Linked DNA regions of Homo sapiens. The protein of the gene in region 1 purifies or fractionates together with the protein of each later gene. This does not show direct contact. Each region holds a gene or a part of one and is shown in the gene's direction. Other genes may lie near its edges. The genes, in order: ARHGEF39 and KCTD12.

Region 1 (7,516 bases):
CAGCTCACTCATTTTTCAAATGCGATTCCCTATGGCTCTGTTTCTCTGTCTCTCTCGTCTCTGGTCTGAGTGGAGAATGTGGACTCTGACCCTGGATCATGCTGGGAGTCTGCCAAACCCTCAAACAGGTTTGAGTTATTGTTTCCTGAGTCTCCCCGGGTTGGGACAGAGTATACTCAGGACTGACTGACCAGGGCACCCCACACCTGGATCAGGACCTCTCTGTGGTTATTATAGGCCAAGTGTTTGCTCATGAGGGTTTGTGTTTTCAAACACTGAGGGGTCATGTTACTAAAACATGTCTCTGCCTATCCCAGCATGGCAGAGGAGGAAACTATTCACTGGTGGGGTAGAAGGGAAAATGCTCCCTCTCCCAAGCCATAGCTTGGGGGCAAAGACTGATCAAATTCCTTGTAGAACCTTGAGGCTGACTTGTAGTTCTGGCTACCTCCCCATCTATATTCATTTCCAAGGGCTGCTGTAACAAATTACCACCAAGTGGGTAGCTTAAAACAACAGAAATGGATTTTTTCACAGTTCTGGAGGCCAGAGTCTGAAATCAAGGTTTTGACAGGACTGGACTCTCTCTGAAGGCTCTGGGGAAGAATCCTTCCTTGCCTCTTCTAGCTTCTGGCGGCTCCAGGCATTCCTTGACTTGTAGCTGCATTACTCCAACTTCACATGGCCTTCTCTTGCCCCTGTGTCTCCACTGGGTGTCTCTCACTGAGACACTTGTCATTGGATTTAGGGCCTACCAACATAATCCAGAATGATCTCATCTCAAGATCCTTAACTAATTATGTCTGCAAAGACCCTTTTTCCCAACAAGGTCACATATACAGGTCTTGGGGATTAGGACATGGACATGTCTTTATATGGGGCCACCATTTAGTCCACCATCAGTGCAGGGGAACTGACGTGGACGCACAGGATGAGAAGGGATGAGTTCGTATTGAAGACTCTCATGCTTTTGCCCTTATCCTGCTACTTATCTTTGCAAGGCCGTGTCATCCACTCCCATGGCTCCTATAAATTGATGACACCCAAGTATTCCCAGGCTGGACTCTCTCCCCATGCCAGACCCATAACCATCTGCCTAATAGACAAGACCCAAGACATCTCCACTTGGATGTCCCACAAGTATTTCAAGTTTAACAGGCCCCAGGTTGAATTTGTCTTCCCCGCAAATCTCCTTTTCATCCTCCTTCAGTGAATAGCACCACCCTCCACCTAGAAGCCAGAAACCTGGTACCATCTCTACTTTCATCTTTTCCTTCACCCTAGCATTCAATAACCATGCCCTATGGATTCTACCTTCTAAATTTTTCATCTACATTTTTCATCTTGGCTCATACTTTCGTCACCTCTTACCTGGATGACTGCAACTGCCTCCTGATGGGTCTTGCTGAGTCCAGCCAACCAGAGTGATGTTTCTAAAATGGCACATCTGATGATCTCACTCCCTGTTTAAGGCCTTTCAATGGTTTCCCATTGCCCTTAGGATAAGGTTCACAGTACCTGACGTGGCCTTCAGAGGGCCGCCATTGCCCTGGTTTCCATGGTGGGCTTGTGACCTAGGGAGGTCCAATCAGTGAAGCTCTCTGTCTGAAGTATTTGATGGCTAAGGGAACCAACTCTGCGGACAACACATAAAGAAGCACACAGCCATTGTAACTGTGGGCAGCCATCTTGTACCCACAATGGAAGCCAGCCTTAAGATGAAGGTAAAACCATGGAAGGCACAGTGGAGTGGTGGAAAGAGGTCCTTGGTAACATGATTGAGCTGCTGGATTAGGCCAACACTAGGGCCCACCTGCTTCTGGACTTTTCAGTTGCATGAGCCAATAAATTATCTTAATGTTTAGCCACTTTGAATTTATTATTACTTATATCACAATTTTACTGATATAAATTCCTTCTAAGTTTGGCCTCTGTCTACCTCTCCAGTCTCCTTTGTCATCACTCTCTCCCTTGCAGTCTATGCTCTCATCTTACAGAACTTCTAGCAGTTCCTTAAATTCATCGTATGCTTGCATATGTGTGTGTCCAAGCCTTTGTCCATGCTGTTTGACTCTTTTTTCCACTTCCCTTGCTGCCAGCGCCCAGCTCTGCCTAGCCAGGTTTTATTCATCCTTCAGGTCATCAGTTCACATATCACTTCTTTGAGAAGAAGCCTTCCCTGACTCCTACACTAGGATCAGTCCCTTCACTGCATGCTTGTGTAGAAGACTACATGTCTCTTGTAATGTTTCCTCATTTTATGGTGACTCCTTACTGTATCTGCCATGCTGGAGTGTAAGCTCCCTGTGGGCAGGGGTCATATGTCTCTTGCCCACCATTTCATCTTCATGCCTAGCACAGGACCTGGCACATGATTGGCATTTAATTTTTTTTTTTTTTTGAGACAGAGTTCCGCTCTTATTGCCCAGGCTGGAGTGCGATGGCATGATCTCGGCTCACTGCAACCTCTGCCTCCTGGGTTCAAGCGATTCTCCTGCCTCAGCCTCCCAAGTAGCTGGGATTACAGGCACGTGCCACCATGCCCGGCTAATTTTGTATTTTTAGTAGAGACGGGGTTTCACCACATTGGTCAGGCTGGTCTCTGACAACACATAAAGAAGCACACAGCCATTGTAACTGTAACTCCCGACCTCAGGTGATCCGCCTGCCTCAGCCTCCCAAAGTGCTGGGATTACAGGCGTGAGCCACCATGCCCAGCCTAATTTTGTTGAATGACTGATGATTGTTGTTCAAAGCATCCCTAGTGCTTCTCCAGCATCCATCGGATTGAAAGCAAAATTTGAGGATAATTAAAGAATAAAGGGGTTATTGACTATCCTCTGAACCTCCTCCTGTTGGCCCCTCCTATCTTTGGCTGTGGGAGCGGAGTTTAGCAGCTGTTCCAGGTAGAGTATGGTGTGCCTGACTTGCTCTGTGGGAGACTCGGTCCCCAGGGAATTAGTTGTCACCAACTGTTTTCAGTGTGTCTTCTCGGCTTTGCCCTCTTCCTCTTCTAGAGTTGAATGATTCCCCAACCGATGCTCACAGGAGGCTCTATTCCCCACCCCTCTTCCACCCACCCAAAGCACTAACACACACTGGCAGCATTCACAAACACACCCATCACCAACTGCACCCCAGGTGTTGTGGTCTACTCTCATCACCTGGGCTCACAGTGACACCAATTACCATGGGATTATCTGTCCTCTTCCATGTTTGAGCTCTTAGTGTGTGGACTGTCCCACATTCACTTGAGACAGTGTAACCAGTCCTTTACCTATCTGGTATCACCACCAGTTTCCTTGGGACATAAGCCCAAGGTACAGTCTGATCCAAACTCTCCCCTTCCTTCATCCAAGCCCTTCAAGTTATTCCTCCCTGGTCTAAGCCCAGCATTATTCCTTTCTTAGAATTCTTAGAATGTCAGAGCTGGTGGGGAGGTGGTAGAGACCTCAGAACCCTGACAATCCTCTGGTTCTTGGCTTGCGGCCCAGATTCCTAGGAGTCCAAAACAGTAGGGAGGGAGCCTAAAGTTTCTGACATTTTGTTTTTTTTAATAACTTTTTTTTTCTAACTACAAAGTAATGCATGCTTAATGTAGAAAACTTGGGAAAGGCAGAAGTATAAGAGAATTTTTAAAATCACCCTGTTTGTCCCATTCATCCCTTTAGCTTCAGTGATCCAGTGCCTGGCACAGATACAGATTAGGTACTTAATACACATTTGTTAAACACATTATCTTCAATTCCATTACCCGGAGATAAAAACCACAGTTAACTTTTTATTTTTATTTTTTATTTATTTATTTTTTTTTTGGAGAGATGGAGTCTCGAACTCCTGGGCTCAGGTGATCCTCCTGCCTCTGCCTCCCAAAGTGCTGGAATTACAGGTGTGAGCTCCCGTGCCTGGCAACAGAGTTAACTTTTGATTGTTTTGCCTTCCAACATTTTATATATGTTTTATACAAAGGGGATTATATTATACACCTTTGTAGCCTGCTTTTTTTCCTCTCAGCAATATACTTACTATGTGCGTTTTCCCATATCGATAGCTTCTTTACAACACCATTTTTAATACTTTCATATCATTCCTTCAAATGGCTATACCTTTTCCTAGCCAATTCTGGGAACAACTGACCCCCTGGCATTTGGCATGGGCCCAGGACAGAATGTGTACTGTAATGACCGCCCCCCGTCCCAATTCTCCAGATAGGACATTAAGTTCCTGCCAGCATCTGCAGCCCGTCTCCTGACTCAAAGTTCAGGCTGCTGCTCCAACATAGTGCCACTCAGAGGAGGGCTCCACACCTGCCCCCAACCTTGCCCTGCCCTGCCCTGCCTTGGCCGGCGCCGCGCACCTAAAGCGCCGCTCTGGCGGTGGGGCTGGACAGAAGAGACCCTGCGCGGTCCGGCCGCTCGCCGCGCATGCTCCTTCCTGCGCGCTGCCCTCCCCGGCCCCGCCTCCGCGGCTCCCGCCCGCGAGCGGTTGGGATTTGAATCTGCCGCGGACTGCAGCCGGAAGTGTCGATCCCTCAGCCAGGGCATGGAGCTCTCCTGCCCCGGTTCGCGGTGCCCGGTGCAAGAGCAGCGTGCCCGCTGGGAGCGGAAACGCGCCTGCACCGCCCGGGAGCTGCTAGAGACCGAGCGGCGCTACCAAGAACAGCTGGGGCTGGTGGCCACGGTGGGGGACCTGGCACACGCTCCCATTATAGGACAGGGACCCCAGGGTGTGGGAGGGTCTCTGCGAGGTCGGTAACCCGGAGCATGTAGGGAGCCTGGGCAGACTTCTGCGGTTTCTGGGGGCGCTTGGCGTTAGCCTTCTCTTCCTCTAGGCTAAGAACCAATGTTCTCTCCTTCCGCAGTACTTTTTGGGGATCCTGAAAGCCAAGGGGACCCTGCGACCACCTGAGCGCCAGGCCCTGTTTGGCTCCTGGGAGCTCATCTACGGCGCCAGCCAGTGAGTGGAAGGGGCACAGGGAGAGGAAAGGAGGGAGAGTCCTGGCCTGTGGCCGTGCACAGAGCTTGGAGTCAGACTTAGGTTCTATTTGGAGTCCGCCAGTTAGCTCACCTGTGGCCTTGGCCCAGGGCCTTAGCATGCCCTTGTTCTCCATCTGTACAATGGGGTAATAGCACTACTATTAGTGCTATTCTCATGAAAACTAAATGAGGTGGTGCTTGAGTGGTTCTAGAGCTGCCCTTTTGCTGTCCTTGCCCACACAGGGAGCTGCTTCCCTACCTGGAAGGAGGATGCTGGGGCCAAGGGCTGGAGGGCTTCTGCCGCCACTTGGAGCTCTATAACCAATTTGCTGCCAACTCAGAGAGGTCCCAGACCACCCTGCAGGTAACCTGGAGATGACCTCAAATCTTGCCCCTTACCTTTCCCCTTCATCTGGAGACCCAAACTTCATACATTTCCTGCATTTATAGAGCCCTCTGGGTGCTCAGCTCTGTGGTAAGTTCCTTGTAGAGAAACGAGAGTTTCTCTCAGGAGCACAGCTTACTGAAGGCTGGGAATGTGGATACAGATGAATGCAATATAAGGAGTGGCTTCTCTCCCTGCTTCCAATCCTTTCTCCCTCACTCCAGGAGCAGCTAAAGAAAAATAAAGGTTTCCGGAGGTTTGTACGGCTTCAGGAAGGCCGCCCTGAGTTTGGGGGCCTTCAGCTCCAGGACCTGCTCCCTCTGCCTCTGCAACGGCTCCAGCAGTGAGTGAACTCTTGATTCCAGCCGCCTCTCTCTTTTAGTTTGTATGACTGCTGCCCTCAGCTTTGTGGGATGCCTTGGGGTCGATCCCAAACTCTTGCCTCGACCCTGAGCCAAATTGCTTCTAAAAACCTTTTGCAAGAGTAAATGTGAACCCATTGGAGTACCCAGGGTCTGCAGCCTGAGGCCCTCAGCTGGAACTGTGGAACTTTAAATTGAAGTGAGGGGGCCTGTACTAGGGCCTGAGGCACGGTTTCTGGAAAAGTTTCAGATGCGGGGCTGGCCTGGGTTAGAATTTCTGTCTCTGGGTTAAGCCTGAGTTAAGGGCTATAGTCAGGCTGTCTGTAGCATCCTCCTTGGGTTGATAAACTTTCATCTTCCAATCTGGCCTCCTGAAGTATGGCTAGTCTGCCAGTGACTCTTCAGTGTGGGATGGAAGAGGGCTGTGTGGTGTGAGCCTGGTTCTGAGTCCTACATGAAAGAAGGGGATACAGTAGCCAGAAGCAGATCTTTCCTGGCCTTCAATTGAAGTATGGGTAGAGGGTGATCTGCACATCAGGCAGGGGGAATTCTGCCTGGCTCTGCTTCCCCTCAGACTTCCCACTGTTGAATTCCAGGTATGAGAATCTCGTCGTAGCTTTGGCTGAAAACACAGGTCCCAACAGCCCTGACCATCAACAGCTCACACGTAGGTTCTTGCTCCTCGGCAACGCAGGCTGGAGGCTTCCTCTCCTGTATTCCTTTCTGATTCTGACCTCCAACAATGTCTGGTATGACCCTATCTTCCACTGACATGTATACAGTGTCCCTACTGCTCTGCCTTTTCTTCAAGAAGTCAGACCCTGACCCTGGTCCCTTCCAGAATAACCTCTTTCACAACCATGGCACCCAAAGTCAAAGTTGTATGGGGAGTAAGGTGGGAGATGTTATTCCAGGGGCTGCCCGACTGATAAGTGAGACTGCCCAGAGAGTCCATACTATTGGTCAGAAACAGAAGAATGACCAGCACCTTCGGCGTGTCCAGGCTCTGCTCAGTGGACGCCAGGCAAAGGGGCTGACCTCAGGTAGCTTGCCTACTTCCCCTTCAATCCTCAACTGCCCCATCTTTTATTTTTATCTAACTCCAAATGCCGACCAGCTGCTCTTTTCTTACTCACCCTTCTTCCTGTACTGACCCAGCACATAACCCCTATTTTCTCAGCCTCCCTTTCCTCTTATTCCCATGTATCTTGAAGCTGCACCAGAATAACAGCGCTCCCATCCCCCAGGGCGCTGGTTCCTACGCCAGGGCTGGCTGTTAGTGGTGCCTCCCCATGGGGAGCCTCGGCCCCGCATGTTCTTCCTCTTCACTGATGTGCTCCTCATGGCCAAGCCTCGGCCTCCACTGCACCTGCTGCGGAGTGGCACCTTTGCCTGCAAGGCCCTCTACCCCATGGCCCAGTGTCATCTCAGCAGGGTCTTTGGCCACTCAGGAGGCCCTTGTGGTGGGTTGCTCAGTGTAAGTAATAGGTGGGAACCCTAGACCCAAAATATGTCTCAGATGCTTATGGGCTGGTTTATCTCCCTGGTCTGGGTCCCTTTTCATAGGAACAGAGCCATCTACATTGAGAGAGGATAGCTGGGGCTCGGGCTTCATACCTAGTCATTGTCTCATCCCTGAATTAGCTCCATGGAAACAGCAAGGGCTTCAGCTTTAGCCTGGACCTTTCTGAGCCATGCGCTAAGAGGTGGTCTCTCTCTAGCTGTCCTTCCCTCATGAGAAGCTACTGCTTATGTCCACAGACCAGGAGGAGCTGTCACGCTGGTACCACAGT
Region 2 (3,496 bases), on another chromosome or scaffold:
GAATCATTTAGTTTTTTAATTCATTTACTAATGCTATAAAATTTCCTATATTACCCCAGTAATTTGCATCAGCTGGTTTATATACTAAAGCAACATGTTTTGATGAGTTTCTTACATCCTTATCGAGGAATTGGGTTAGGAAAAAATACATAATTGTAAAACTGAGTTTGCTGTATTATACTTTTTTTCTTGAGTATTAGTTGTATTACTAATCATATGTTGATTAACTGTCTACTTAAAGTCAAGGTACCTGTATTTTTAATCCACTAATTTTTTTTTAGTTGGGAAATAGATTTCAGGTCTTTTATTAGACTAACATTTTTTGAGAAGTAAAATTGACTTCATATACAAAGCCTGTAATTTTAGGCGAAATGGAAGCAGAAATCTAGGAAGTTGTGCTTGCTTGTATGTTGAGTTTGGTCTCAGACTAAGTAATGCATCAGAATTCATCTGTTTGAAGCCTGAAATAATTTAGGACTCTGATTCACTGACCAAAAGTCAGTGTTGCAGAGATTTCTCTACCCCGTATGGTATTTTGTTAGATTGTTCAACAGGAAGCACATGATTGAGAACATCTTGGGACAGACCAAAACCACTGACAGATGGCAAGGCTCGGCGATTCTGATTTCCCTTCTCAAATCTGCTCAACTCCAAGAGTCTTGAGAAACTGCTAAAATTTTGCCTCTGTCACTCAAGTCTTACAAATGTTATCTTGTAAACCTTTGAGGTGAACTATTCCACTGTCTTGTACATAGGCATCTTATTCACTGCACCCTGTCACACCCAGCACCCCCCGCCCCGCACATTATTTGAAAGACTGGGAATTTAATGGTTAGGGACAGTAAATCTACTTCTTTTTCCAGGGACGACTGTCCCCTCTAAAGTTAAAGTCAATACAAGAAAACTGTCTATTTTTAGCCTAAAGTAAAGGCTGTGAAGAAAATTCATTTTACATTGGGTAGACAGTAAAAAACAAGTAAAATAACTTGACATGAGCACCTTTAGATCCCTTCCCCTCCATGGGCTTTGGGCCACAGAATGAACCTTTGAGGCCTGTAAAGTGGATTGTAATTTCCTATAAGCTGTAATAGTGGAGGTATTGTGGGTTCATTTGAGTAAGCCCTCCAAAGATACCATTCAAATAACCTGGGAGAATGTCATAAATTATTCAGATAATTAACACTGCATGAATCTGATTCAGAGGCATGCATTTACATATGTTGCCCTAATTACCATTTGATGATCATAAATACAAGTGAATGACATTGGACTTTTAGTAACAAACTTAATTTTTAAAAAGGTGTAGACAATGGTGGTTAAAAAAAAAAAAAAAACAGGTACCAGGTTCTGTGTGTTTGCACCAAGTAATTGACATGTTTTTTAATACATGTGGACCATGAACAGTATTCATTCTACTTTTTCAAATGATATGCTGTAGAAAATATTCCTTGAAGATGTGAGATTTAAAAATTTTTCCCTTTCAATGTTGTTATGTATTCTACTGGTTTTTGATTGATAGCACAGTGATAAATCATAATACTAGACAAAATTGTCTTCTCTTTCAAACCAGAGCCATATATATGTCTGTATATATGGGACCTACTGCTTCTCTGAGGAAATGCATAATCTGTTAATATCAGACAAAATGAGCAATTGGCAGTGCTCATAATATATTCCAATTTTTATTGGAATTTTCGATGGAATGTTATTTCAATAAAGCCATGTAAGGTGAAACTTTGATAACTTTTTACTCTTCAAGTTAGGGTAAATTCTGATCCAATATTCAATTCATTTGTGTACTCCCACATGCAAAATGCTAAATTACAATGCAGACATTAAGAAAAAGTATTGACTGGAGGGGTTGAATTCCTTGAGAATTTATTTTATAGTCTAAATCACAAATACTTTACTCAATTTAGTTTTTAAAATAGTAAACTGAATATTTTTGTTGTAAGCCTATCAGAGTCAATCCTTCGTTTGGAATTGTTTTCCTGTTTTTCCTTACTATAAATCATTTAAAAACTGAATTCATTTTCTTAGATGGCATAAGTCTGTCTCTTGAGAAATAAGTAAAATACTCCTATTTTCAGTATCTGTAGCACCTGAAATAGGTCTTTGTATAGCCAGAAACAAGTTATGTTGAAGTTAGCTTTTCTTTGTCAACAGTTTTGGACAATAAAAATCTGAAAGTATTAACACTTGATTTTCTACTGGGGCCCTTCAAACTTGGTTGGAAGAAATTCAACCAGAATATCTACATTAGAGTATAATCATGTGTGGTAGGAAGATGGACTAGTTAATCAAGATTTGTTGTCACTTAAATTTTTTGTGATTTTTTTCCAAGCCAGTTTTTTTAAATTCTAAATGTGTTTTGAGGTATGGGTACATTAATTGTAATGTAAACTATTATACAACTGTTTTTGCGACTTTATAGGCAGGTAAATTTTGCTATTACTATTGAATACAAATGACAATTCATTTATGACCACTCAAACAGCGTTAGTAACCATTTAGTGACAAAGGATTAAAACATCCATCTGGATGTTAATTTTGAAGATGTAAATTATATGTTGTTTAAATTTTTCCAGGCATCTGAAAACCTTATCTGCTAGACAATGTAAGATTCACACAGAGTTATCTGGGATTCTGATTTTTTAAATAGTACATATCATTAAACCATTTTCTCTAAATGTAAGAAGAGCAGAAAAAATCTTATAAGATTATCAGATTTTTCTAATGACACAGAAATGTAAGAAAAAAATCCCTTTATATTGAAAAAAGATGCAGTCAAAGTCTTTTCAGACATGCCCAAACTTTGAGAATTTCTTCAACCATCTAATGCTATAAAGATTTTTGTTCTTCCTGTTCACAACCAGTTGTATAACAGAAATACTAGCTACTGTTTTCCTTCCTGTGTGTGAAGTAATGAATCATTGATTATGTGACTTGTTATGTATTCAATTAAACACTAAAGAATAAAACATTCACTCCTTTAATTATTCCTCTTGGCTCCTTGGCATGGATTGGCTTGAACACTGGTCTAATTTCATTTACGGGGTTCTCTAAATACTGGCAACACTTCCCAAATTATTGTGGGACTACTGCTGAGCATTATGCCATCAGAACTCTTCACCAAGGAACCGGCCAGCAGGACCAAGCACAAATAGCTTCTTTCCCCAGAGTTTATTGTCAAGAATGCCCAGGCGGTCTGGTACTTAATATGGAAGAAATGTTTTTCACAAACATTTTCTTTGACTTCTCTGCAGCATATGCCACTTGCTGTGTATAGGGACAGGGAAATAGAAGCTTCGAGATGTGCTTTACTTAAAAGTACAGTTCATGAGAAGGTTCTAAAAAATGTTGGGAAAGAGGAGCTGCATTTTTTGATGTGGGGGCACTTTACTGCCTCATCTCTAGTGGTTGATGTTCCTCCTCTCTAAAGAAGGCACAGTGCTGCTAAGATTGAGAAATCACAGAAACAAGTCGTCTGGGTTAT

The links.
Region 2: the proteins of ARHGEF39 (region 1) and KCTD12 purify together in Homo sapiens (co-immunoprecipitation; 2 studies listed by BioGRID and IntAct, with this or other methods). This does not show direct contact.

Annotation. Positions count from the first base shown.
Region 1 is NC_000009.12:35,662,196-35,669,711, reverse strand, and holds the start of ARHGEF39 (rho guanine nucleotide exchange factor 39), read left to right. Parts: upstream 1-4,516; 5' UTR 4,517-4,542; coding exon 4,543-4,680; intron 4,681-4,861; coding exon 4,862-4,956; intron 4,957-5,219; coding exon 5,220-5,340; intron 5,341-5,585; coding exon 5,586-5,704; intron 5,705-6,319; coding exon 6,320-6,390; intron 6,391-6,637; coding exon 6,638-6,766; intron 6,767-6,970; coding exon 6,971-7,200; intron 7,201-7,444; coding exon 7,445-7,516. UniProt on the Homo sapiens protein: Promotes cell proliferation.
Region 2 is NC_000013.11:76,879,675-76,883,170, reverse strand, and holds the end of KCTD12 (BTB/POZ domain-containing protein KCTD12), read left to right. Parts: 3' UTR 1-2,996; downstream 2,997-3,496. UniProt on the Homo sapiens protein: Auxiliary subunit of GABA-B receptors that determine the pharmacology and kinetics of the receptor response. Increases agonist potency and markedly alter the G-protein signaling of the receptors by accelerating onset and promoting desensitization.